5 separate regions of the Homo sapiens genome follow, and regions 1, 2, 3 and 4 are each linked to region 5. The links come from fine-mapping of genetic effects on gene expression. A gene starts in region 5. Each other region holds a variant in brackets. All regions are shown on one strand. Distances are between the middles of the regions. Region 1 overlaps ANKRD55 (ankyrin repeat domain 55). Region 2 overlaps LOC105378977 (a long non-coding RNA gene). Region 3 overlaps ANKRD55 (ankyrin repeat domain 55). Region 4 overlaps ANKRD55 (ankyrin repeat domain 55). Region 5 holds the start of ANKRD55 (ankyrin repeat domain 55).

Region 1 (5,107 bases), 57 kb before region 5:
TTGGTCAGGCTGGTCTCAAACTCCCAACCTCAGGTGATCCTCTAGCCTCTTGGCCTCCCAAAGTAGCGGGATTACAGGCGTGAGCCACCGTGCCTGGCCTCAACTCTACATATTTTATTTGAGTTTGACACATCTGTGGTAAGGTTTTTTTGTATACTGAGTTCAGAGTTGTGGCTGAGACTTAACTTCTAAGTGTCCCGTTTGCGACATTTTTCTTTAATTCTTGAATTTGAACATTGCCAGGAGGGAGGGATAAGCTTCACAGTGCAGTCCCCAGGACAACTGCTTCCCGTGAGCCCCAGCAGAACAATGGAGGGTCCTGCCTTGGGGAGCCACAGGGAGATGGGGGCAGAGTTAAAAAGGTGGCACCACATGGTGTCCTGCTGGCAGACTCTTCTCATGCAGCCCTTAGAATATATTCCTAGAAAGAGTTGTCTGCAAAGGTGTCAACTTTCCAGGCTCCAAGGGTGTCCATCATTATTCACCGTGATTTAGAGGAGTACTTCTTCCCAGTCCCTTGCATAGCTCTCTAGTCAAAGAAATGTAAAATTTTGAATTTTTGAACTTTGAAAGGGGGACAGTTTGCTTTCACTACATTCTATTTGCTAGTGGCAGTCAACTTTAGAAACCCCTTCTATGCCCTTCCTCTACCCCCTTATCCCAGTTTTCTCTTTTCTTCAGCTCAGACACTGGAAAAGTCCATAGCAAGAGCAGTTCTTAAGGCATGTGCTAGAAGGGAGGGGGCTAGGAGGACAGCCATATGTCTGTCTGAGATATGGGACTTCGGCTAATATGCACAGACCAGTGGCTTTTAAACTTGATGGGCAAGTTTTTAAAAATCGCCTGGGAGGCTGAGGCGGGCAGATCATGAGGTCAAGAGATCGAGACCATCCTGGCCAACATGGTGAAACCCTGTCTCTACTAAAAATACAAAAATTAGCTGGGTGTGGTGGTGCATGCCTGTAGTCCCAGCTACCTGGGAGGCTATGGCAGGAGAATCGCTTGAACCTGGGAGGCAGAGTCTGCAGTGAGCTGAGATCGCACCACTGCACTCCAGCCTGGTGACAGAGTGAGACTCTGTCTCAAAAAAAAAAAAAAAAAAAAAAATTGCCAAGGAGGTTTGTTCAACATGCAGACTCCCCCAACACCAACTACCCCAGTCCTGCTCCCAGAGTATCTGACTCAGAAGGTCTAGGGTATACCCCTGGTACCTGCATTTGACACTAATGTGAATAAGTTCTGATAACCCTCTACCATCAGACCAGCCTGGCATTTGCATTTGAAACAAGCACCCCAAGGGATATTGACACAAAAGATCTGTGGACCACAGTTTGAAAATTTCTTCCCAGATTTGCATGTGAGTTCTAGAGAGAGAGCACAAATAGAAAATGAAAAAGTAGGCTCTAAAGGAAATCTCTGTGAGACTTGGGCAATGCTTCATTGCAATCTATGATAGGTCATGGCAGAAAGGGGTGGTGTTTGGGAAAGGGAAGTGATTTAATTCAGCAGGACACCCTCAATGGGGCTGGTCCAGAGTGAATTCACCACCATCAGTGGGCAGCAATAGCAAATGCAAGCCATAGCAAATGCAAGAAGCTGCACTGGTAGCAATGGTGGTCATAGTGAAGATTTCTGGGTACCTCTCTGGAGAGGAAGAAAAAGGATGACCTCCATGTGGTGGTTAGGACTTGTTTGACATGGACTCAAGGCACCCCTAGGACCTCCCAAAAGGATTGCAGGAAGAGTTTGAGAGGAGAGGGTCTTGAGGATTTTCAGTAAGGCTTAACCAGGCTTGCTCTAATGTTGGGAAATGCTGAACTGAAATCTCTACCGGTGAGGACTAGTATTATGACACAGTTGTTAAATTGAGCCCTGATTGTGGGCTGAGTCATCTGCTTGGCGTTGTCCCTTTAAGAGCCTGCTTTGTCTCCCCTGTTCTTTATCTTCCAGTCCCTCCCACCACCTTCCCCAGTTCTCGTTGTTCTCCACATTCCTTAGCCTCAAGCTTCTACTCAACCAATCCTACCCCACAGATGTTAATTGGATCTTCACAGTATTCCCACCCTGTTGGGGTTATTTAGGGAGATTGTTTTTAGAAGCACCAAGTGTGTCCAGAAATATCCCAAGAGAAATTCTGATGCCATTAAGATAGAAAAGAATGTTTCCCTAATGGCCATATCACCTCTATCTTAGAGGATTGTTAGGAAGATCCAAAATGGCCCAAATTCATGAAACCAACTCTAAGTGGGGATATAAACGTTGAAGA[T/C]GATTGGAGTAAAGCTTCAAGTTCCAGCTCCTTTAGCCAGCTGCATAGATCCAAGAATGCTCCTTTGCAACTGGGACCCCATAATGACACCCTTCGCCTACCCTGCTCCTTCCACCCTGTGACAGGCACAAGTCAGTACCAGGTAGGTGGCCAGGCATAAACTTGTGCGGCCATAAGCATCCTGCATGTTAATATTGGCTCCCATCTTCAACAGCAGCTTCACTGTGTCCGCTTGACGTCCAGAAACCGCATGCATCAAGGGCGTGCATCCTGGAATGAGACATTTCAACAGCCTTTAAACATGTGTGACCCATGAAACTGATGAGCAGGCTTTATTGGCCTGTTCATTTATTTTGCTATTTGCAATACAAACCCAGCTGTTTGTATGGGACTGAAGGGAGATGAAGCTGATTGTTGCTACATCTCTATAAACTATGTATTTTTTTTACTGGCTCTTTTCAATCTTCTGCAATTTTGCAATAATTGGCTGAGTAAAACATTTTGGGTAGATGATAAAAATTGCTTATGACTGTGTCAGGGATCAGCATAATTTAAGACATAACAGGCAGATTTATCCTGACTTGGCTTGAACCATGTAGAATCTAGGAGTGCCTTTGGAAAGCCGCTCTATCTAGGCAGATGGGTTCAGCACACTTTTATAGGGGGTGGCAGGTGTTAAGGGGCAGCAACAGTACCCAGCCTTGGATTGCACAAACTCTTGCTGAAAAAGTGGCCACCTGTACTGAAATGCTTCTCTGTTTTCAGAATCAATATAGGTCAAGGCATTTAGTTTTTTATGTGTTTTCTTTCTGAATAAAAATAGAGATGAAATTACACATTTTGATGAACTTTGCAGGGCTGTTGGAACAAGCCAGCCTCATGAAGCAGGATCCAGGTGCTTCTTATTCCTTCAGGTGAAGAACTCAAACCTCAGATTCACTCCTTGCCCAGTCGAGACTTGTGTAGATGTCTTTGGACTGGAGATTGTGATTCTTCTCCAGATGAACTGCAAGCTATGACCCTGAGAAATCCCCAAGAAAGGGTAAATCCCAAGATTTCTGTTTTCACTGAAAGAACACCGAGTTCAGAGTTGTGGCTGAGTCTTAACTTCTAAGTGTCCCTTTTGCCAAAGTTTTCTTTAATATTTGAATTTGAACATTGCCTGGAGGGAGTGATGAGCTTTGCAGTGCAGTCCCTAGGACACCAGAAATTGAGTTGCAGTCGGCAACTCAATTTCTCTCCAATTTTTTTCCTTCTGAAACTCTTTCAGTCATCTGTACTGGGAAAAAGCAGCAATGAAGTGCTATGTCTTAAAATAGTTGCAAAATTTCCTTCCTTTCCCTTCCTCCCTTCCTTTCTTCCTGTCAACAAGTGGTAATTATAACTATTGAGAGAAAAAAAGGACATGCTGCAAAAGGCAATTATTGAAGCAATCTGTGAATCTGAAATGCTCAGTAAGTAAAGCTAAAGAATCCCTAGATAGGCCGGGTGTGGTGGCTCCTGCCTGTAATCCCAGCACTTTGGGAGGCAGAGGTGGGCAGATCTCTTGAGGCCAGGAGTTCGAGAACAGCCTGGCCAACATGGTGAAACCCTGTCTAAAAATTCAAAAAAAATTAGCCGGGCATGGTGGCACGCACCTATGATCCCAGCTACTCAGGAGGCTGAGGCAGGAGAATTGCTTGAACCCGGGAGGTGGAGGTTGCAGTGAGCCGAGATTGTGCCACTGCACTCCAGCCTGGGTGACAGAGTGAGACTCCATCTCAAAAAAAAAACACACACACAAAGAAACAAAAACAGAATCCCTAGATATTGTTTTCATAAAATTACATGCTATGTCTGGCTAATTTACATCTATCTTGAGAGCCTAGCTTACATATAAATTTCTTCAGGGAACACCTTCCTGACCCTCCATTGTGAACTGGATGTCCATGTTATAATTTTTCATCATCCTTCATTTTTCTCTAGTAATTCTTTTAATATTTTACAATTATGTATTGATTGAGCATAATCACGTGTTTAAAATTTGTCTCTTCTAAGCTATAATTCGAAGTGGAAGGAACCACATCTCTCCTGCTCATCACTGAATCCTCGGTACCAACCACTGTACCTGGTACCGGGAAGATATTAAACAGCAATTCTGAAATGCATAACCAAATGATTACTGAACAAATCTTTTCTTTCTTTTTTTTTTTTTTGAGACGGCATCTTGCTCTGTTGCCCAGGCTGGAGTGCAGTGGTGTGATCATGGCTCCCTGCAGCCTTGACCTTCTAGGCTCAAGCAATCCTTCCACGTCAATGTCTCAACGTACGGGGATTACCGGCGTGAGCCACTGCATCTGGCCCAAATATTTCTTAAGTTTAAAATAATTTTCCTGAGGTGTCTCTAACTGAGGTTTAGGGAGGAATGACAGATTTATCTCCAAATGGGGTTCCAAAATTTATTTTAAGTTGGTACATTTGTCCTTGTAGAAAATAGAAAAAAAAAAACCCTCAAAATAAAACAAGTAAGACAGTACAGCATTGTTCCTGTATGTAAAATTCATATATAAAAGAAAAGGTCTTCCTTAAACAAAAGCAATAGGAAAAGTAACAAAAAACAAAAGCAACAACAACAAAAATACGGTACTTAGGAATAAATCTAACCAAAGAAGAGCAAGACTTATGTGGATAAGAAGTATAAAACTTACTGGGTGACATAAAAGAAGAACTAAACATGGGAAGATACTATGTTTATGAAGGAAAAGACTCAATATAATAGAGCTATCAATTTCCTGAAAATGAATCTATACATTCATTGCAAGTCTAATAAAAACTCAACAAAGCTGTTGTGAAACTTGAAAA
Region 2 (5,107 bases), 100 kb after region 5:
CCTCCCACCTCATCCTCTCAAAGTGTTGGGATTAAAGGTGTGAGTCACCACTCCCAGTCATGAGTGTGTTAATTTACACTCACCAAAGCAGTGTGTGCTCCTTTCCATTTCCCACATCTTGGCCAATTGTTGATACTGTTGGACTTTAAAGTCTTTGCCAATCCAAAGTGTGTAAAGTAGTATTTCATTATTATTTTACTCACATTTCCCTTATTACATGTGAAGCCGATAATATTTTTGTATGATTGTTGGTCATTTAGATTTCCACTTCAGTGAGTTTCCTGTTCATAGTCTCCACCCATGTTTGTTACAACTTCGGTGGTCCTTTACATTTGTGAATACTAATCCTCAGTCTGTCACTTATGGTTCAAATATTTTCTGTAAGTCTGTAAATTGTCCTTTAAAAATGATGTATTTTGAGGGAGAGAAGCTCTACATTTTAATTAAATTTTTATCAAAAATTTCAATTAAAGTTTTATCAAAAGCTTAAAGATTTACCAAACCTGTTTTTTATAAGTCATACTTTTTTTGTCTTGTCTAAGAAATCATTCCCTACCTTCAATTCATGAAGATTTTCCTATTAAATGTATACACTGTCTTTAAGTCCTATTTTTCACATTTGATCTTTAATTTATTCAGAACTTTGTATTAGTCTGTTCTTGGATTGCTATAAAGAACTACCTGAGACTGGATAATTTATAAAGAAAAGAGGTTTAATTGGCTCATGGTTCTGCAGGCTGTACAGGAAACATGGCTGAGGAGGCCTCAGAAAACATACAGTTATGGCAGAAGGCAAAGGGGAAGGAGGCACATCTTACATGGCTGGAGCGGGAGAAAGAGAAGACAAGGGGGAGGTGTTACACACTTTTAAACAACCAGGTGTCATGAGAATTCACTCACTATCATGAGAACAGCAAGGAGAAAATCTGACCCCAAAATCCAATTACTTCACAGCAGGCCCCTCCTCCAAGATTGGGGATTACAATTTGACATGGGATTTGGATGGGGACACAAATCCAAACCATATTATTCTACCCCTGGCCCCTCCCAAATCTCATGTTCTACTCACATTGCAAAATACAATAATCCCTTCTCAACAGTTCCCCAGGTCTTAACTCATTTCAGCATTAACTCAAAAGTCCATCTGAGGTTGGGCATGGTGGCTAAAACCTGTAATCCCAGCACTATGGGAGGCCGATGTGGGCAGATCACCTAAGGTCAGGAGTTCAAGACCACCCTGGCCAACATGGCAAAACCTCGTCTCTACTAAAAATATAAAAATTAGACAGGCATGATGGTGGGCACCTGTAATCCCAGCTACTCAGGAGGCTGAGGCAGGGAGAATTGCTTGAACCCAGGAGATGGAGGTTGCAGTGAGCTGAGATCATGCCACTGCACTCCAGCCTAGGTGACAGAGTGAGACTCCTTCTCAAAAGAAAACCAAAAAAGCAAACAAAAACGAAAACAAAGTCTCATCTGAGACAAGGCAAGTCCCTTCTGCCTATGAGCCTGTAAAATAAAAAAACAAGTTAGTTACTTCCAAGATGCAATAGGGGTATAGGAATTGGGTAAATCCTTTCATCCCAAATGGGAGAAATTGGCCAAAGGAAAGGGGCTGCAGGCCCCATACAAGTCTGAAGCCCAGCAGGGCAGTCATTAAATCTTAAAGTTCTAAATCAATCTCCTTTGACTCTGTGCCTCACACCCAGGCCATACTGATGCAAGGAGTGGGCTCCCACAGACTTGGGCAGCTCTGCCTCTGTGGCTCTGCAGGGCTTGGCCCCCATAGCTGCTCTCAAAGGTTGGTGTTGTGTGCCTGTGGCTTTTCCAGATGCACAGCACAAGCTATCAGTGGATCTACCATTCTAGAGTCTGGAGGACAGTGGCCCTCTTCTCACAACTCCAGTGGGCAGTGCCTCAGTGGGGACTCTGTGTGTGGGCTCCAACCCCACATTTTCCCTCTGCACTGGCCTAGTAGAGGTTCTCCTTGAGGGCCCCACCTCTGTAGCAGACTTCTGCCTGAACATCCAGGCTTTCCCACAGATCTCTAGAGCAGGGGCACAATGCTGCCCAGTTCTTTGCTAACACATAACAAAAGTTACCCTTTCTCCAGTTCCCAATAAGTTCATCATCTCCACCTGAGTCCTCCTCAGCCTGGCCATCTCTGTCCATATTACTATCAGCATTTTGGTAAAAACCATTCAGCAAGTCTCTAGGAAGTTCCAAACTTTCCTTCCTCTCCCTGTCTTCTTCTGAGCCCCCCCAAACTGTCCCAACCTCTCTGCCTGTTACCCAGTTCCAAAGCTGCTTCCACATTTTCTGGTATCTATAGCAATGCCCCATTCCTAGGTACCAATTTTCTGTATTAGTTTGTTCTTACATTGCTATAAAGAGGTACCTCAGACTGGTTTATTTATAAAGAAAAGAGGTTTAGTTGGCTCACGGTTCTGCAGGCTGTATACGAAGCGTAGCTGGGGAGGCCTCAGGAAACTTTCAATCATGGCAGAAGGTGAAGGGGAAGCAGGCACATCTTACATGGCTGGAACAGGAGGAAGAGGAGAGAAAGGTGCTACACACTTTTAAACAACCAGATCTCATGAGAACTCACTCACTATCAGAAGAACAGCAAGAGGGAAATCCACCCCCATGACCCGGTCACCTCCCACTTGGCCCCTCCTTCAAGATTAGGGATTACAATTTGACATGAGATTTGCACAGGGACCAAATCCAAACCATATAAAACTTATTTTTTAGAATATTATGAAGTAGGAACATAACTTCACTTTTTTTCTATATGACAGTCACTTGTACCATTTTCTCACTGGTTTGTAATGCCACCTGGATCACATACAAATCACATAACTTGTGCTTTATGCGTCTCTATTTA[G/GT]TTTTCTAATCTACTGATCCATATGCCTATGTCAGTGCCAGACTGTCTCAATGATTTAGATTTATATGTCAGGACTAGCCTCCTTCTTAGTGTTCTCTTTTTTGAACGTTGTTTTGTCTATTCTTGAACATTTAAACTTCCAAATGAATTTTAGAATTGTTTAGTTTCATTATATATTCTCCTGCTTCTTTCATCAGAATTGCATTGAACTTACAGGTTAATTTTTGGAAAATTTACAGGCTTACAGCACTGAACCTTATCATTATTTAGTAAGGCAGATTAAAATCAAAGTATGTCTGTAGCTATTACATTGTGAATAGCACAAAAACTTTGAGGAAAATTCTTCCATAGTTATTCCATAAGTATTATCTAATTCAGCAAAGACATCATTCCCTAATGAATGCCCACAACACATCTTCACAGTTTCACTTTGTTAACATAATAAAAATATCAACCAACATTCCTATCAAAACTATACGCATTCATCATTGGTTGGCTACAGAAACAAGAACTCAGCAAAAAAGCAATGGAAGTATTCTGTGAACATCAATTGGCTTTATCCAATTTATAATAAAGAGCTTTATATATCTTATTATTATTTATAAATTATGTGATACAGAACCTTTATATTAGAAAATATAATAAACTTTTGTATAAATACTTTTAATATATTTTTAATTTCTTAAAAATATATTGATAGTCTTCCCCCACCTCCCCAGCCAGAAAGCTGTTTGTTAAATATTTACCAGCACACCACTGGCTCTAGCCCTCACCAGTATCTACATACCCTTGCAGAAGGCTACTCTGCTCCCACGACAAAAGTGCCAGAGGGTGCCCCTCAGGTACAGATTATCTGAGAGGCCTCATGAAAAGTGCCCTGTTATGGTTGTTAAACATTTACCAGCACACCAATGGTTCTATCCCACTCCCCAAGGTAGCAGCTCTCAACCAATGACAGAAAGAGTTGATGTATAAATACCTCAGTTCCCTCACCCTCAGATGGGTTGAGATAACTCTGATTTATGTTTTACACTCTTTCCCAGAGCTTCCCTAAGAGATTAAGCTCCAGTCACCCCAAGTAGGAGCTGGCCTGATAACACACCCTTTATTGTCTTCTCTTTCATTTTACTTCTTCTTTTCCCACTGATGTCTTCTCCCAAATCAACCTGTGCTTGAATTCTTATCTGTTCAAGACCACTGGATCTATAATTCGTATATCCTTTCAATCTGATTAAAAGTATCAAAAAAGGCTGGAAGGTAGAGATTGGATTTTGTGAAGAGGGCAGTTTGGAGAGAGTTGTTCCTATGCTCTAAGCTCCACTTGCCAATAAGGGAGAGGAGAGGACAGAGAGAGAGAGAGAGAGAGACAGCATGTGTGCAATTTTTCTCAACTCAAGGGTATGAGAATATGTACTAGTTTCCCAGGGTTGTCGTAACTAAATACTCCAAGTTGGGAGGCTTAAAACAACAGAAATTTATTCTCTCACATTTCTGGGTGCTACAAATCTGAAATGAAAGTGCTAGCAGGGCTAGTTCTTTTTGAGAGCTCTGAAGAAGAATCTGTTCCATGTCTGTTTCCCAGCTTCTGGTGATGGATGGCAGTCCTTGGTATTCCTTGGCTTGTAGATGAATCACTTCAATTTCCTGCCTTTGTCTTTGTTTCTCTCCTTCTCCTCCTTCTCCTTCTCCTCCTCCTTTCTGTTCCTCCTCCCCCTCCCCCTCCTCCTCCTGCTCCTTCTCCTCTTCCTCCCCTTTGTCCTCCTCCTCCTCCTTCTGTCTTCTTCTTCTTCTTCCTCCTCCTTGTCTTCTTCCTCTTCCTCCTCCTCCTCCTTCTTCTTCCTCTTCTTCTTCCTCCTCCTCTTCTTCTCCTTTCTCCTCCCCTCCTCGTCCTCCTCCTCTTGTTCTTCTTTTCCTTCTTCTTCTTCTTCCTCTTCTACTCCTTCTCCTCCTTCTTCTTCTACTCCTTCTCCTCCTTCTCCTTCTTCGTCTGTTCTTCATCGTCGTCTTCTCAATCTCCTCCTTCTTCCACCACTCGTATTGGAAAAAGAGCCCACCATACTTTAGTGTGACATCATCTTAAGTAATTGAATCTGCAATAATCCTACTTCTAAATAAAGTCACATTCTGAGGTACCGGGGTTAGGACTTTAGCATATCTTTTGGCGGGACATGATTCAACCCATAATAGGACGTTTTTCATGAGCTCTCTCAGAGCTCCGAG
Region 3 (5,107 bases), 130 kb before region 5:
CGATACCTGAAAATAGAAGGGAACACACAAATGTGATTTAAATCCATTTTAAAATTGACTGGATGGTGTCATGAATAGGAGCTTGGTTGGGCTCTGGGGTCAAACAGAATTAGGCTTGATTCCCTGCTTCCCCACTTTTCAGTTATATGACATTGGGCAAATGATATTACCTCTCAACACCTCAATTTTTTCATATACAAAATGGTGAAAATAATTGTATATCTTTTCCACTTGTCATGAGGATTAAACTGGAGAACAAGGGTAAAGCATTTAGCTTATAGGGTAAAGTACTCAAAAGACCTTAACAAAAAAAGATTATTTGATCTTTTGCCTATCAGTCTAGTAAGAAAGAACCAGAATTGCTATAGCAATGCTCCTAGACTTTAAGGGTCTTCTGTTGGAGCAAAATAGCATAAGAAAAAAAGAAAAAACAAAAGGATTAGCCAAGAACAACTTGCATCTGTTTAAGTGAATCTCATGGTGGATGGTCTGTGCAGAAGCGGCCACCTCAGCAATGTTAGTTGATGGAGATTAAATCTCCAGTCTCCCTGGTGGATATTTTGCCATTATATTTTATCCTTTTGAACACTGAACATCAAATAACTTCAGGAGCCATTATTTACAGAGAAAATATTCCTGTGTAGAATTAACATGAAAATTTATATTAGCGAACAACTATTTATCCATGAACACTTGAGCAGAAATTTGTAAAACCAACGAGATAATAATTTTGAGTTATGTTTATGGAACACTTACTTTTGTCAGGAATAGGGATAAATGCTGTAGGCATAATCTTATTTAACTCTGACAATCACTTTTTCTTGTGAGATACATTCTATTATCATCCTCATTTTACAAATGAGGACCTTGTGACTTGGAGGAGTTCTAAAAGTGCTCAAGTCACACGCTAGGAAGGGACACAGCCTAGACTTCAACCCTATAGGGCTGACCCTGTAACTTCTATTATTCTGCCTCCTCTAAGCAGATGGGAGCAGTGGGCAAAGAAGGGCTACAGCAGTGACTCGGAGATGAAGGGGAGTTAAACTTTATTCCATGTTGGCATTTTGCTCAGTTTTCAGGGACAGGGTGGAGCCGTGCATAGCCCAAAGCTGTCTGGTGCTGCAGGCAACTCCAGGGAGTGTTCAGCTTTGGGGACAGGGTCAAGGACCACTGTCCTAGAAAAAAAGGATAGGAAATGTTTTCACAGTTACATGATGGAACCCGAGGTGACTGCAGGATTAATAATAATAATAATGATAATAACAATAATAAATAGATAATTCAGCAATCATCCATTGAGCACTCATCATATTCCAGACCCTAGAGTACAAAGAGGAGAAAGCAAGGCGTTCAGGAGGGGATTGCAATTGATGTGGGAGGAAAGACAGGTAAACATATGGTTTTGAAGCTCCATGAGTAGTGCTGTGATAGAGTTTGTGAGGGCATTGCAGAGGAAGGAATGGTCCAGAGAAGTTGAGGTTTTCTGGGATCCCATAGACCTTGTTCCAGTATCTCCTCTGCCACTTCCTAGCTAGCTCTGTGACCTTAGGCAGATGAGCTAACCTCTCTGTCTCAATTTCTTCAGTTATAAAGAGGATAAAATCTCTCCTGCAATGTTGTGGAAAGTGAAGTGTGTAGGTGTGTAGGTCAGCAAGGTGGAGCTATTCTTTTTTTTTTTTTTTTTTGGAGACAGTGTCTCACTCTGTTTCTCAGGATGGAATGCAGTAGTGCCATCGTGGCTCACGGCAACCTCTGCCTCCCGGGTTCCAGCAATTCTCCTGCCTCAGCCTCCTGAGTAGCTGGAACTACAGGCGTGCGCCACCACACCAGGCTAATTTTTGTATTTTTAGTAGAGATGGGGTTTCACCATGTTGGCCAGGCTGATCTTGAACTCCTGACCTCAGGTGATCCACCCGTCTCAGCCTCCCAAAGTGTTGGGATTACAGGCGTGAGCCACCGTGCCCGGCCAGGTGGAGCTGTTCTTATTAGCAGTCCTAAGAAAGAGCCATATTTCCTACAGAGATCAGGGTGACCTTCACATATTATAGAAGGTGAGTTTTGAGCTGGTTCTTAAAAGATTGTAGGAATCGGTCAAGCACACAGTGGAGAGAACCCAAAATAATAACAAGGGCCAAGATGTCATAGAATGGAAAGGTATGAAATTGTCAAGAAACTGAGACATATTCAAGGAACTTCTGAAGAGGTAGGGGTGGGGATTTGAGATGGGCGGTGCAGAAGCTGAGCATGACCATGCCGTGAGGTCTGACCATGCCGTGAGGGCTTTGTTTGCCCAGTTTAGAACCCTGGCCTTTGTCCTGAAAAGATGCAAAACGTTTGATGGGTTTAGACAGAAGGATCACAGGATCAGACCTAACCAGCCAGAAGAGTGCATTGTTGGCTGAGATAGTCTAGAAAATTCTAGAGAAGGAAGCTCTCTTTTGCAGGAGAAAGGAAATGCACACTTTTTTACTTTTCTTGTGACGGCTTATAAATAACCAGGCTAGCAGACAATACCACAGAGCTTTCTGTTCCATTTTCTCTGAAAGCTGCCTGCAATGAATTAAGCTGACGTGCTCCAAATTCCAAGTCTCTAGGATAAGTGCTTCATCCCCCATCTTGCTGCATCCAACCTCTGACAGGTCTCAATAAATGTTAAGCAATAATCATTACAGCTAAATGTTCAGGGCTGCTGATGTAAGCATTGGATAGTGGCTGCCTGGAATTTTAACAGCAGCACTACTAACTCATATTATTTCTACCAAACCCAGGGCAGGAAAGGAGGAAATCCAAAGATAAAGGGACAATCCAAGTTCAAGTCAGTGCTATAGTGGGATGATTTATCCAACTGCTTTACCACATTAAACTTTCACATAAAGTTTCAACTCTCCTAGACTAACAACAACGACAACACCCACTTCAGTGTAGTGCAGAAGCCTCAG[T/C]GATCTCAAAACAATTATTGTTAAAAATGATCACAAAAATAAAATCCGTAAGGCTAGGAAAGCTTTTTTTTTTTTTTTTTTTTTTTGAGACATAGTCTTGCTCTGTCGCCCAGGCTGGAGTGCAGGTGCGATCTCGGCTCACTGCAACCTCTGCCTCCTGAGTTCAAGCGATTCTCCCACCTCAGCCTCCACAGTAGCTGGGACTACAGGCGCCCGCCACCACACCTGGCTAATTTTTGTATTTTTGTATTTTTAGTAGAGATGGGGTTTCACTATGTTGGCCAGGCTGGTCTCGAACTCCTGACCTCAGGTGATCCGCCTACCTTGGCCTCCCAAAGTGCTGGGATTACAGGCATGAGCCACCACACCCAGCCTTAGTGGCTCATATCTATAATGCCAGCATTTTGGGAGGCCAAGATGGGAGGATTGCTTGAGGCCAGGGGTTCTAGACTAGTCTGGGTAACAAAGTGAGACCCTTGTCTCTACAAAAAAATGATGACAAAAAAATTAGCCAGAGGAGGAGATGTGTCTGTAGTTCCAGTTACATGGGAGGTTGAGATGGGAGGATTGCTTAAGCCCAGGAGTTTGAGGCTGAAGTGAGCTATGATCAAGCCACAGTACTCCAGCCTGGGTGACAGATCCTATCTCTCTCTAAAAAAAAAAAAAAAAAAAAATCCCTCACTCTCTTTTGATAAATCAACTGTGATAAACACTCAGCAATCATTTAATGTTTGATCAAATGACTAAGCTCCTTTCCATTTTTGAAACCCTATGACTGTATCTAAACATGAGAAGAAAGTCAATTTAAAGTCAGTTGCAGAAGCATTTTAGTAAATCTATACCCCTTAAAGCTGATTTATAGGCTGAAAACACTTGGGAAATTTATCTTATCATGACTCAGTTGCCTAGAATGGCTCCTAGTTATAATCAGCACTCAGAAAAATTGGTTGAAAAAAATATTTGATATAGGCAGATTCCATTGGAGAAATTCACCTTCCCCTTTCTGCTATTCTGCTGTCCCAGGATTTTTCTAGTTATTTCATTGTGTAAGTGAGCAAATCCCCAAACCACGTTTATTGAATTTCTTTTTATTTCAAATAAGATGGAAATTTTTGGGTGGCACATGTGTCAGAATGTACTAACTCTCCATCTAATATCTCCTCCCTCACTTAGAAACAGAAATCCAATTTTGGAGGGATAGCAACGTGGCCAGCTAAAAGACTCCTTGTTGATAGCTGTGAATATATGACCAAAGTTTAGAGGCCAATGAGATGCAAGCGGAAGTGTGGCACTTAAGCCAGATGAGTTCTTAATGGGAGCTGATTCACATGGGGACACGCATTTTTCCCCCTCTCTACTTCCTTCCTCCTGCTCCATCAGCCCCTCGAGGAGAGAAGCCATACATTAGGTGACGGGGCACATAGATGGAAAGAGCCTATGTTGCTTATGATTGTGGAGCCACCAAATGTCTGGGAACTGCCTACTTCAGACTTCTTTCATGTGATAGCAATAAACTTTTTTTTTTTTTTTGAGACAGGGCCTCACTTTGTCACCAAGTCTGGGGTGCAGTGGTGCGATCTTGGCTCACTGCAACCTCTGCCTCCCAGGCTCAAGTGATCCTCCCGTCTCAGCCCCCCAAGTAGCTGAGACCACAGGCAAGTACCACTACTCCTGGCTAATTTTTTTTGTATTTTTTGTAGAGACGAAGCTTAACCACGTTGCCCAGGCTGGTCTTGAACTCCTGAGCTCAAGCAATCCACCTCCCTTGGCCTCTCAAAGTGCTGGGATTACAAGCCTGAGCCACTGCACCTGGCCGTGATAGCAATAAACTTCTATGTTGTTCAAGCCCCTGTGACTTTGGGTTTCTTTTACAGGAAGCTGAACCCCATCCTAACTGATGTAAAAGAGACAGGCCAAGGCTGTCTTTGGAACGGAAAAAGAACAAGATTTTCAGATTTTCACATGATTTTCATAACAGAAGGTATTCGTTTGGCCGGGACAGGCCTAACTCTGGAAAACAGGATGGGTTGAGGCCCTGAAGTGTCAAAAGGTGGCAGACCACTGTGTTCCCTTCCTGATCCTTCTGCAGAAAAAAATGCAAACACTACCCATGCCACCAGCCAAGTGCTTCAGTGCTTTGTGGAGGAAGCAAAATCTTGACTGGAGTT
Region 4 (5,107 bases), 120 kb before region 5:
GGGTCGAGTAGGCTCTGTTCTATGCGAATATAAAAGAGCAGGGATGATATGTGAGTATGGGAAGTAGAGACATCACTCACCGAAATACCGACCCCCTATTCCACATGCTTCATCAGGTTTTCTGAGATCCTTCCTAGATACCTCCAAAGCCTTCTCAAGTTAAAGGCAGTGTGAAGAACTCACAGTACCCCTGGCAATCCCGCCCAGAAGAGGCTCTTTACCATGGGCAGTCTTTGCCCAAGGAGGACGTTTCTTAGATTTTTCTTGCTCCTTCAGGGGATATCCTTTCAAAATTTACACCTAGATCATCTGTTTTCAACAAGAGGTTAACTAAACTGAAAATTAGCTGAAAGTGTTGTTCTCACATCTCAAGGACAGTCAGTAGGCACGCAAGTTGAAGTCAGAGATGAAGCCTAAGGGTTTGAGTTCAGGCTTCAATGAGCAGAAGGATGGAGGAGGTTGCTGAGGTGGGGGGAATGTGGTTTTAGGCTTTCTCTGACAGAGATCCTAGAAAACCTGGACCGAGTGCTGACCGACTGACATTATCCCCCTCAGAGACCCCTCCCCATTTTAAACTAAAACTTTCCTATCGAAAAGTACTTTTAAAAAAAGTATGCTGAAGAACAGGTACGGTGGCTAATGCCTATAATTCCAGAACTTTGGGAGGCTGAGGCAGGAGGATCACTTGATGTCAAGAGTTTGAGACCAGCCTGGGCAACATGGCAGGATCTCATCTCTAGCAAAAAAAAAAAAAAAAAACAACCAAGGAAAGAAGCTTTAGTCTGGGCTCCAGCGAGGGAAGAGGAGGAGTGCATGACCAAGGTCGGGCGTGGCTGCAGAAGAAAGTGAGCAATGCCCAATGCGCAGGCAAATTATAAAGGAAAAAGGCCAGCAGTTGTCGAGAGGTTCCCTGAGGCAAGATTCTGTTTGTGTTCCTTAGAAAATTCTGTGTGATTCTCTTTTGAGGCTCCAATTGACTTAATGCTTTCTGCGGTATGAATTAACGATGAAACCTGACCCGTGTGTGTGCCCCTGAGTCAGATTGCAACACTACTTTCTGGAGTGAGATATCGCAATCTGCAATTTGAAAAACATCACCACTTATTTTGGATGCATATAATGAATGTTTTCTCTACAGGTCACACAGTGCATCCTTTGAATTTTTATTCCATGATGTAGTCTTATCTTTATTCTTTCACCTTCCAATGGGCTTTTTGAAATACTGAATTCTAGACTCCTAATACCACCAGAGAGAGAGCCCCAGGGCACTTCCGACGCTCAAGTTTCCCTATAAAGAATATGTCTGTGTGAATTGATGCTATTGCAGCATCTTGTGTAAGCCATCTCCTCCTCCTGTTACAGCTTGTGCTTTAGGCCTCTGGGTCTCAAAATGGGGTCCACTGAACCCTTGGAGAGGGATCCCCGACTTTTTAAGGGGTTTATGGCATTAAACTCTATTCATAATAACATCACAACGTTATTTGTCTTTTTCACTGTGCTGCCTTGCATCGATGGTGCAATAGAGGTGGTGGGTAAAATGGTGGCTGCCTCAGTACAAATCAGGACAATAGTGGCATCAATGTACTTGCAGAAAAAAAAAGTCCTTTAACTTAATAATGTCCTTGTTTAGGGAGTACAAGTTATTAATTTGATTAAATATTAACTTGAGTACACTTGTTTGACAAAATAAGAAGCACTCGTAAGCAATTCTACTATATACGGAGGTGTGATGATTGTCTTGGGGTAAAGCAGCTGTGCAATTGTTTGAGTCGCGGGCTGAACCGGACACTTTTTTCACGGAACACCATTTTTATGCCTTGCAGACAAACTGTGGTTATGTAGAGCTAAGTATTTGCAGAAATTTCTGCAAAATAAATAAAGTGAAATACACAGAAACAGAGAGTAAAACAGTGATTACCAGAAGTGAGGGTGAGGTGGGGGAATGGGAGGTGTAGGTCGAAGGGTACAAAGTTGCAGTTGAGTTCAAGTATTTCTCGTGCTTCAGCCTCCCAAGTGTCTGGGATTACAGGTGCATGCCACCACGCCCAGCTAATTTTGGTATTTTCAGTAGAGATGGGGTTTTGCCATCTTGGCTAGGCTAGTCTTGAACTCCTGGGCTCAAGTGATCCACCCACCTTGGCTTCCCAAAGTGTGGAGGTTACAGGCGTGAGTCACTGCGCTCGACCCATCTGACTAGGTATATTTATATCAAAATATGTATACTATATATATATATATATATATATATATATACAATAAAAATATATTAAAATGAATAAAGTGGGCCAGGCGTGGTGGCTCACGCCTGTAATCCCAGCACTTTGGGAGGCCGAGGCGGGTGGATTACCTGAGGTTGGGAATTAGAGACTAGCCTGACCAACATGGAGAAAACCTGTCTCTACTAAAAATACAAAATTAGCCAGGGGTAGTAGCACATGCCTGTAATCCCAGCCACTCTGGAGGCCGAGACAGGAGAATCACTTGAACCTGGGAGGCAGAGGTTTCGGTGAGCCGAGATCGTGCCATTGTACTCCAGCCTGGGCAACAAGAGCGAAACTCCATCTCAAAATAAATAAACAAATAAATAAAATAAAACGAATACAGTGAATATTTCATTTCAAGATAAATAACTGACAGTTATTGTAGCCAATGACAAAAGTCTAGCTTTCAAGCAAAAACTAGAATTTTGGAAAACTTATATTCACATTGTAAGCTTGACACCATCTCAGTATATAAAGCTTGTCCAATAGATTGGTGGTGATGTTAACAAATGTGACTTTTTGATATTGTATAATGAAATGTGTCATCTGGAAGATCTTTATAATTAAGTGAACCAATATTTTCCAAATGACCAATGCAAGGTGTTAATAAAATCACGCATGTGTATAAGACCCATTTAAAGTATAAGGTATAGTAATGTATTCTAATGTGACAGAGTACAAAAAATTCATTGATATGGTGAGAATCCACATTGCAATTAACCTTTAAGAAACTGCTGCTTGTTAAGTTTTGGTATCGTATCAAAGAAAAATACACACAATTATCTGAAAAGCCTATTGAGATAC[A/C]CCTGCCTTTTCCAACTACGTATTTATATAAGGCTGGATCGTTTTTATATACATCAATCAAAACATGATACTGTGGCTGGGTATGATGGCTCACACTTCTAATCCCAGCACTTCAGGAGGCTAAGGTGGGAGGACTGCTTGAGGCCAGGAGTTTGAGACCAGCCTGGGTAGCATAGTGAGGCCATCTCTACAAAAAAATAAAAAACCAAAAAACAAGAAAACCCAGCTGGGCATGGTGGCACATGCCTAAAGTCCCAGCTACTCAGGAGGTTGAGGTGAGGGGATCGTTTGAGCCCAAGAGTTCAAGGTTGCAGTAAGCCATGATTATGCCACTGCACACCAGCCTGGATGACAAGTGAGACTCTGGTTCTAAAAATAATAATAATAATAAATAAATAAATAAATAAATAAGCAAACCCCCAAACCAAAAAACAAAACACATTACATCGCAACAGAGAGAATGCAAAGAGTAGATGTGGAACCCACTTTATTCTATTTTTTTTTTTTTTTGAGACGGTCTTGCTCTGTCATCCAGGCTGGAGTGCAGTGGCACTGTCTCGGCTTACTGCAACCTCCACCTCCCAGGCTCAAGCGATTCTCCTGCCTCAGCTTCCCCAGTAGCTGGGGTTACAGGCACGCACCACCACATCTGGCTAGTTTTTCTGTTTTTGGTAGAGATGGGGTTTTACCATGTTGGCCAGGCTGGTCTAGCTGAACTTCTGACCTCAGGTGATCTACCCGCCTCAACTTCCCAAAGTGCTAGGATTACAGGTGTGAGCCACCATGCCCAGCCCGCAGCTGTATTCTATTAAGCTTGTATTAAGCTACCAAAGAGAGTTGCCAAAAATATAAAACAATGCTGCTCTTCTCATGACAATATTTTTGTTTTGGGAAATAGAAATATTAAATAAAACATTTTATTTTTAATTAAAATATGCTATTTATGTTCTCATGTAAATGTAATGTTTATTATTAATTTAAATGGATAACAATGCATATTTTATTAAAAATTTCTCATTTTAATTAATTAATTAATTTTTTTTTGAGACGGAGTCTCACTCTGTCACCCAGGCTGGAGTGCAATGGAGTGATCTCGGGTCACTGCAAACTCCATCGCCCAGGTTCAAGCTATTCTCTTGCCTCAGCCTCCCAAGTAGCTGAGATTACAGGCACCCACCACCATGCCTGGCTAATTTTTGTATTTTTAGTAGAGGTGGGATTTCACCATGTTGGCCAGGCTGGTCTCGAACTCCTGACCTCAGGTGATCCACCTGCCTCAGCCTCCCAAAGTGCTGGGATTACAGGCATGAGCCACCGCACCTGGCCGCTCGGTTTTAATTTCTAATGCCATAAATATTGACGGGTTTGACTCTCATAAACTAAAGTTATCTGGGGGCCCTTAATAATTTTTGAGAGTGTAAAAGGGTCCCGAGAACGAAAGTTTGAGACTCATCAAATTAGGCAAAAGAGGGATTCAGAGGATTTGCCAAAAAGGGAAGAGGAAAGAGAGAAAAGGAAAGAAGAGATTCAAGTTCAGTGAATATTAGGCTGATGGATTTGGATTCACTACTATCATTTTGCTCCAAGAGCACTTTATTCTGTGTTAGATAATGGCAAACGTTAATTATAGAATCATTTAATGTCTTTAATACTATGTAACATTAATTATATTATAAAAGTATAATAATATTATTATTGGTTTGCACCTTGGCAATTTAAAACATTTCATCCAAATTTATAAATAGTTGAGAAGAATAGAAAAATAACTGGCTCCTGTTGTACTCACCTGCTCTCTTGGGAGAGGAGTTTGACACACGCCGTGTGACCGCAGTACAGGGCATAGGCCAAGGGCGTGCTCTCATTGATGTCCCGCAGGTTGCTGTCCATTCCCAACTCCAGCAGTGACTGGACACATTCGGCCTTCCCTGCAGCTGCAGCCCAGTGCAGAGGTGTCCTGGAGGGGCCATGTGAAAAAAGCACAAGCGTCTGAGCATGTGAATTGTTCAGGCTGCTTAGCCAGCAACAGCTCCTGCTCAAAGTCA
Region 5 (5,107 bases):
GCATTGCTAACAGGTGCTTTTTATATGTTATTATTTTAGATCCTCACAACAACCCTGCTAGGTAAGCATCATTTCCTTCATTGTATTCCTGGGGAAACTAAGGCCCAGAGAGGTTAGGTAACTTGCCAAGGTCACACAGCTAAGAAGTAGATGATCTGCCATTCTGATCTACGTCTATAAGATTTAAAATCCCATGCTCTTTCCATCATATGATAAAACCTCTAGAAAGAGAGAAAGGATTGAGAAATAGAGATAAAGATGGCAGGGAGAGGGTTAACTTCCATGGGAGAGAATCCGGCCCAGGTGGAGGAATTGCTGTGAATTGCTCACATGAAAGGTGTTAAAAGAAAATCAGTCTTGTAATTCTGTATCTTAACTATGTTTGGGGCTCAATCCTGTTAGAAGGTACAGCACTGGAACATGTAAATTCATTATGAAGAGCTAGTTCTTCTTCAGTCAGTCCCAGCTCCCTCCAATTAGTCTTCAAAAATAAACCCATTGTATGTTTCGTGGCTTAGCAACATCATTTTTCAGCCAGTGTGAGCTCTTTGGTTCTTAGCAGATTTTCACTTTTACTGACTGCCATCAGTGATATAAAATGTACCAGGAGGAGAGGATGGTGGTGGGCACAGCTGTGACAACGCCTTTCTCTATGCTGTTCAGATCCAAACACGGTATGAGCCGGCACGTTCTGAAGGCGCGCACACACACACACACACACACACACACACACACACACACACACATACACATACACAAACACTATTCCAAATGAGCTAAGACCTGGAGAACACACTATACACATATATACATTAGCTAACTCAGGAATCTAAATATAAATTTATTTTTGGAGAAACCCCCTGGGCTAAAATAATTCACCCACAAAGCCAGATGTAGCTTGAGGGGTAATAAACATGCTATGGCCTAGAGCAGGAAAAGGGAAAAAAGAATGAAGCAGTACATTTTCTTAATGAGGCTTTTTCAAACCACCATTTCATGTTGTAGCCAAAACAGATAAAATCACCAAAGGAACTTAGGATCTTGAAGAATATTCAGAGACTGTAGAAAGTGGTTTAAATAATAGATATTTAAGAAAAGATTCTAAAAAATATTTATTATGTTTATAAAATGGAAATTTCATGTTTATACTAAAAAAAGATTTACTATTACACATAAGTATTACACGAAGATGTATATAAACACATTGCATATGCAAAATGTATACACATAGACCACATGGCCAAATATGTGATATTATAAGGATAAGTTGATCTCACAGCAACATTTTGATGTGGAAAATTACCTCCACTCCAGAAATTATAAGTAAGGAAGATATACCCTGGCATTGCAAATAATAGCATAGGGATATGTCATTACACAACCTTGGATGAGATAACATATCAACCCGACATAAATACAGGCAACATCTATTCCTGAAAGGAATAAAAAAATGCTTACGAAGATACAGCAATGAGATACTGGGCTAATCGAATGACAAAAAAAATGTGATGTGTTCTTACATTGCTTACCCTAATTTTTAAAAAAGATTTGGAAAAAACAGAATAAAGATGACACTATCTGAAATAGTTGGTGTGCTTGAAATCCAGTTTTTAAAATTTGAAGGTAGGAATACTTCAACAAGATCATAAGCTTATACAACAGATCATAAGCTTATTTTTCTGTTTCAGATGCTTATCAAACTAGAAGTGAACATTTTGAACAGGTTTGTTTTCTAGGTGAAATCCTCTTTCCACATCCTACATAGCAAATACTCATGCACACCCACGCACATGAACACACACACACACACACACACACTTCTCTTTCTCTCCTTACAACTGTAAATCCATACCATGAGACTAAGGATGCTAACAACCAAAGAATGTGTTAAAGCAGCATTTTACCTCTTTGCTGATCAAACACAGAAGGGGTGCTGAAATCCATGGTAGCCTGTCTCATCATTTACCATCAGAATGGCAAAAAGCATCCAGGTCTCTAGAGAGGAGAAAACACCATCTCAAACCTTACTGTCAACATGACAGTCAGAGGCAGCATCGTTTGCCAAGACCTCTGTTTCAGGATTAAATGTGCATCAGAGCTGCAGGTTGTTGTCAAGGCAAGGTGATGAAAATAGGTAAATGCTATTCCTGTAAATACCTGCTAGGAAAAGAGTTACTCTATGGCCTCATTCATCAGCTGTACATGGGCATAATACACCCTCCACCCCCAAATCAATAAACACAATTACTCAAACTCCAAAAAGATAGTAAAATTGTATGGGCCACCTGCCTTGGATCTGGGCTGGAAAAACACAGCAGATCACGGAGCTTCAGCAGCTGGAATGTCGCTTTACACCAACAGAAATCTGAATGGGTGAGTGAGGATTCACAGGGCCAGACAGAGCATGTGCAAAGCTGCCAATGCAGTTCGCATTCGGCTGTGCTTTTGGCGGAGTGAGAACTGCATTTGGGTCATGTGAGCAGAGAGTGCCATCTCAATGGAATAGGATGTAAATATTGTAGCAGGAGGCTGCTGGCCATGTGCTGTGTGGAGTAATTATCCATGTTGGCAGTCTTCTTCACTCCCCTTTCAGCTCCGTTCTCCAATTGACAGGGAGGATGGGGAAAGGCGTCATTTGAAAGGTGACATTTCAAGGCTCGAGTGTCTGTGGTGATAAAATTAAAACAGTCTGCTGTCACAAGGGTGTTTATTGTAGCATTACATGTAGTAAAACCTGAAAAATCACCCGAATGTACCTCATTCAGGGAGCAGCTAAGTAAATGGTAGTAAATTCGTACTCTAGATTTAAAAATCTGACATAAATAAATCTGTGTATTTATCTGGTGACATGTCACTAATCTATTGTTAAATGAAATAAACAAGTTATATATTTCATTTGTTCGTGTTTTAATAAAACCGGAAACCACTCACTGTATACATTATTTTTATATATTCAGACGAACACTGAAAAAGATGTAGAAAGATACGTACTAAACTGCTAATATTGGTTCCCTCAGGCCACTGTGATTAGAGTAGGAGATTTCTAACTTGTTCTGTATCAATCTCTGTATTTTTGGCTTGTTAATAACCAGTATCTATTATCTTGTATTTGTAATAAAAATATGATATACTAAATTCAAACAAAGTTCTATATTCTAGGCACAACCAGATTTTTGGATAAGTCAAATAGCCATATAGTAGATGCTTGTTGAATCTAATAATAAACACCAGCTTCCTTTGCCCTTGGATAGGATGATTCTGAGGCATGGTGTTTTACTCCGTTTGCCATTTCCCTTTCAGGATTAAACTCCTTCAGGGTTAAACTCCACTGCCACCTGTGAGAATAGGTCTAATAACGTTCTTTTTATGGGCTGCTGTTCCCTCCCTGTATTACTTTCCCACGTTCCTACTGATATTTCCTGCACTTCTCAATAAGTTACTTGCATTGGAATCATTGTCTCAGGGTCTGCTTTTACGGAAACCCAAATTAAAATATTTCTCCACAAGAGGGTACATTTCATAAGGGCAGGGTCTTTGTCTACTCTTTCTTTGTCTGCTTTGTCCACTCCATGTCCTTACAGCCTAGCACAGAGAGGGGCACAAAGGAGGTGCTCAGTACATTTCAGTGCATGAGTGAAACTTCACTGAAGAACTTTCCTTGCTCAAGCTGACAACCTGCTCACTGACATTGTAACATTGGAACCCAATTAACCATCCTTCATGGGGTAAGAACTTTCTGACAAGAACTTCTGTAGTCCTTGAAATTTTCTAGTCTAAACAAGAAACCATGTACTTGAGGATTGGTTCTAGGGTTTCTGGAATTGGCTCTCAAATCTGATTAAATTTAAGGATTCTAATAGCTTTATTTCTAGGAGTAAAGAGAGCATTGATAGTCCATGGTGTGAAGTGGTAATAGAGATATGCAAAAAGCTGCACTGAATATTCCTAATTAATCACTGGACACAACAGGCAAGGAGTTGGGTGACTGTGTAGATGATACCCTCAAACATTTTTGGAAACTTAATGAATATGGCTGGTTGCTCCTAATGTCACTGGACAAAGTGATGAAAGAAAAGGATTAGCTCACGGATTCTAATTCCCAGCTCAGGTGCCATATAGATGACCTGGAGGTGTGTATGTGTACCCTGAAGGAGAGTCTTACCTCCTGTAGCCATGAGGCTGAGGATGCTGCAATCAAATGCAGGCTCTCATGCTGCAGCTGCCTGAATTACAATGCAAATTGAACTCCTGAATTACAGCGCAAGTCAAACTCCCAGCTTCACAGGATGTCTGCTGTTAAAGTGAGGACATTGATTGGGAAAGTAGAGGATACTGTAAATTGGATAGAGACATGTGAGAAGACCCTGATGAAGCTGGGGGACACTGAGCATCTAAACTCTGAGGAGTCTTCTTTGCCAGTGGAAGTGGACTCCCAATCCCTAGTAGAAGCAGCCTCCCCATCTCCAGTGGTAGCAGCCTTTTCACCTCAGTCTGAGAAGATTGACTCTGAATTGCCTGAGGAAACTGTATTGGCCTTCCTTGAGGCAGCTGCCGTGCACAACAATGCTGATTCTCTTCAGGAGCCACCACCATTGTTCCTCTGCTTCTAGACCTATAACTAGACTCAAGTCCCAGCAGCCCCTAAAGGTGAGGTGCAAAGTGTGACCCATGAAGTACATTATATTCCAAAATAATTACTTGAACTTCCTAAAAATCCAGGAAACATGGGAATGGATACTAAGGGAGTGAAATAATGGTGAAAGGAACATAAAGTTAGATCAGGTTGAATTTATTGATATTAACTAATTAAGCAGAAATTCTGCATTTACTGTTGCAGCTCAGGCAGTTATAAAGTGTTCTAACAGTCAGGTTAGTGGGTTGAAACATGGACCAAAAAGTGGCCCAGGGTGAGCAAATTGGAAATACTGGACTTGCCTTGGTTTAATGTGGAAGAGATTCAAAGGCTTAGGGAGATTGGAATGTCAGAGTGGATTTGTCATTTAAGAACTACTCACCCACACTGGAGGGTCTAGAAGACATACTTTTAGCAGTACCGTGAGGAATAGGAATAAATCTGTGAGGGGAACCCCAGCATCTTTGAAGAGTT

What was found. PIP is the estimated chance that this variant, and not a neighbour inherited with it, causes the effect. A credible set is the group of variants that fine-mapping cannot tell apart.
Region 1: its variant is the best candidate, but not a certain one, in a credible set for the expression of ANKRD55 in whole blood (INTERVAL, PIP 0.55).
Region 2: its variant is the best candidate, but not a certain one, in a credible set for the expression of ANKRD55 in whole blood (INTERVAL, PIP 0.53).
Region 3: its variant is the best candidate, but not a certain one, in a credible set for the expression of ANKRD55 in whole blood (INTERVAL, PIP 0.88).
Region 4: its variant is the best candidate, but not a certain one, in a credible set for the expression of ANKRD55 in lung (TOPMed, PIP 0.89).

Annotation. Positions count from the first base shown.
Region 1 is chr5:56,173,747-56,178,853 of GRCh38, forward strand. It overlaps ANKRD55 (ankyrin repeat domain 55), which reads right to left. Exons shown (of 12, transcript NM_024669.3): 4 at 2,406-2,536. Among named protein-coding and RNA genes, the nearest start is that of ANKRD55, 57 kb to the right of the region's middle. The variant T/C (reference allele first, on the strand shown) is at 2,267.
Region 2 is chr5:56,333,419-56,338,525 of GRCh38, forward strand. The region is part of intron 2 of LOC105378977 (a long non-coding RNA gene); the gene reads left to right. Among named protein-coding and RNA genes, the nearest start is that of ANKRD55, 100 kb to the left of the region's middle. The variant G/GT (reference allele first, on the strand shown) is at 2,888.
Region 3 is chr5:56,103,419-56,108,525 of GRCh38, forward strand. The region is part of intron 10 of ANKRD55 (ankyrin repeat domain 55); the gene reads right to left. Among named protein-coding and RNA genes, the nearest start is that of IL6ST-DT, 110 kb to the left of the region's middle. The variant T/C (reference allele first, on the strand shown) is at 2,940.
Region 4 is chr5:56,111,764-56,116,870 of GRCh38, forward strand. ANKRD55 (ankyrin repeat domain 55) reads right to left here. Exons shown (of 12, transcript NM_024669.3): 9 at 4,852-5,019; 10 at 1-19. Among named protein-coding and RNA genes, the nearest start is that of ANKRD55, 120 kb to the right of the region's middle. The variant A/C (reference allele first, on the strand shown) is at 3,066.
Region 5 is chr5:56,230,952-56,236,058 of GRCh38, forward strand. ANKRD55 (ankyrin repeat domain 55) reads right to left here and starts at 2,379. Exons shown (of 12, transcript NM_024669.3): 1 at 2,290-2,379; 2 at 1,905-1,995. The coding sequence starts at 1,962.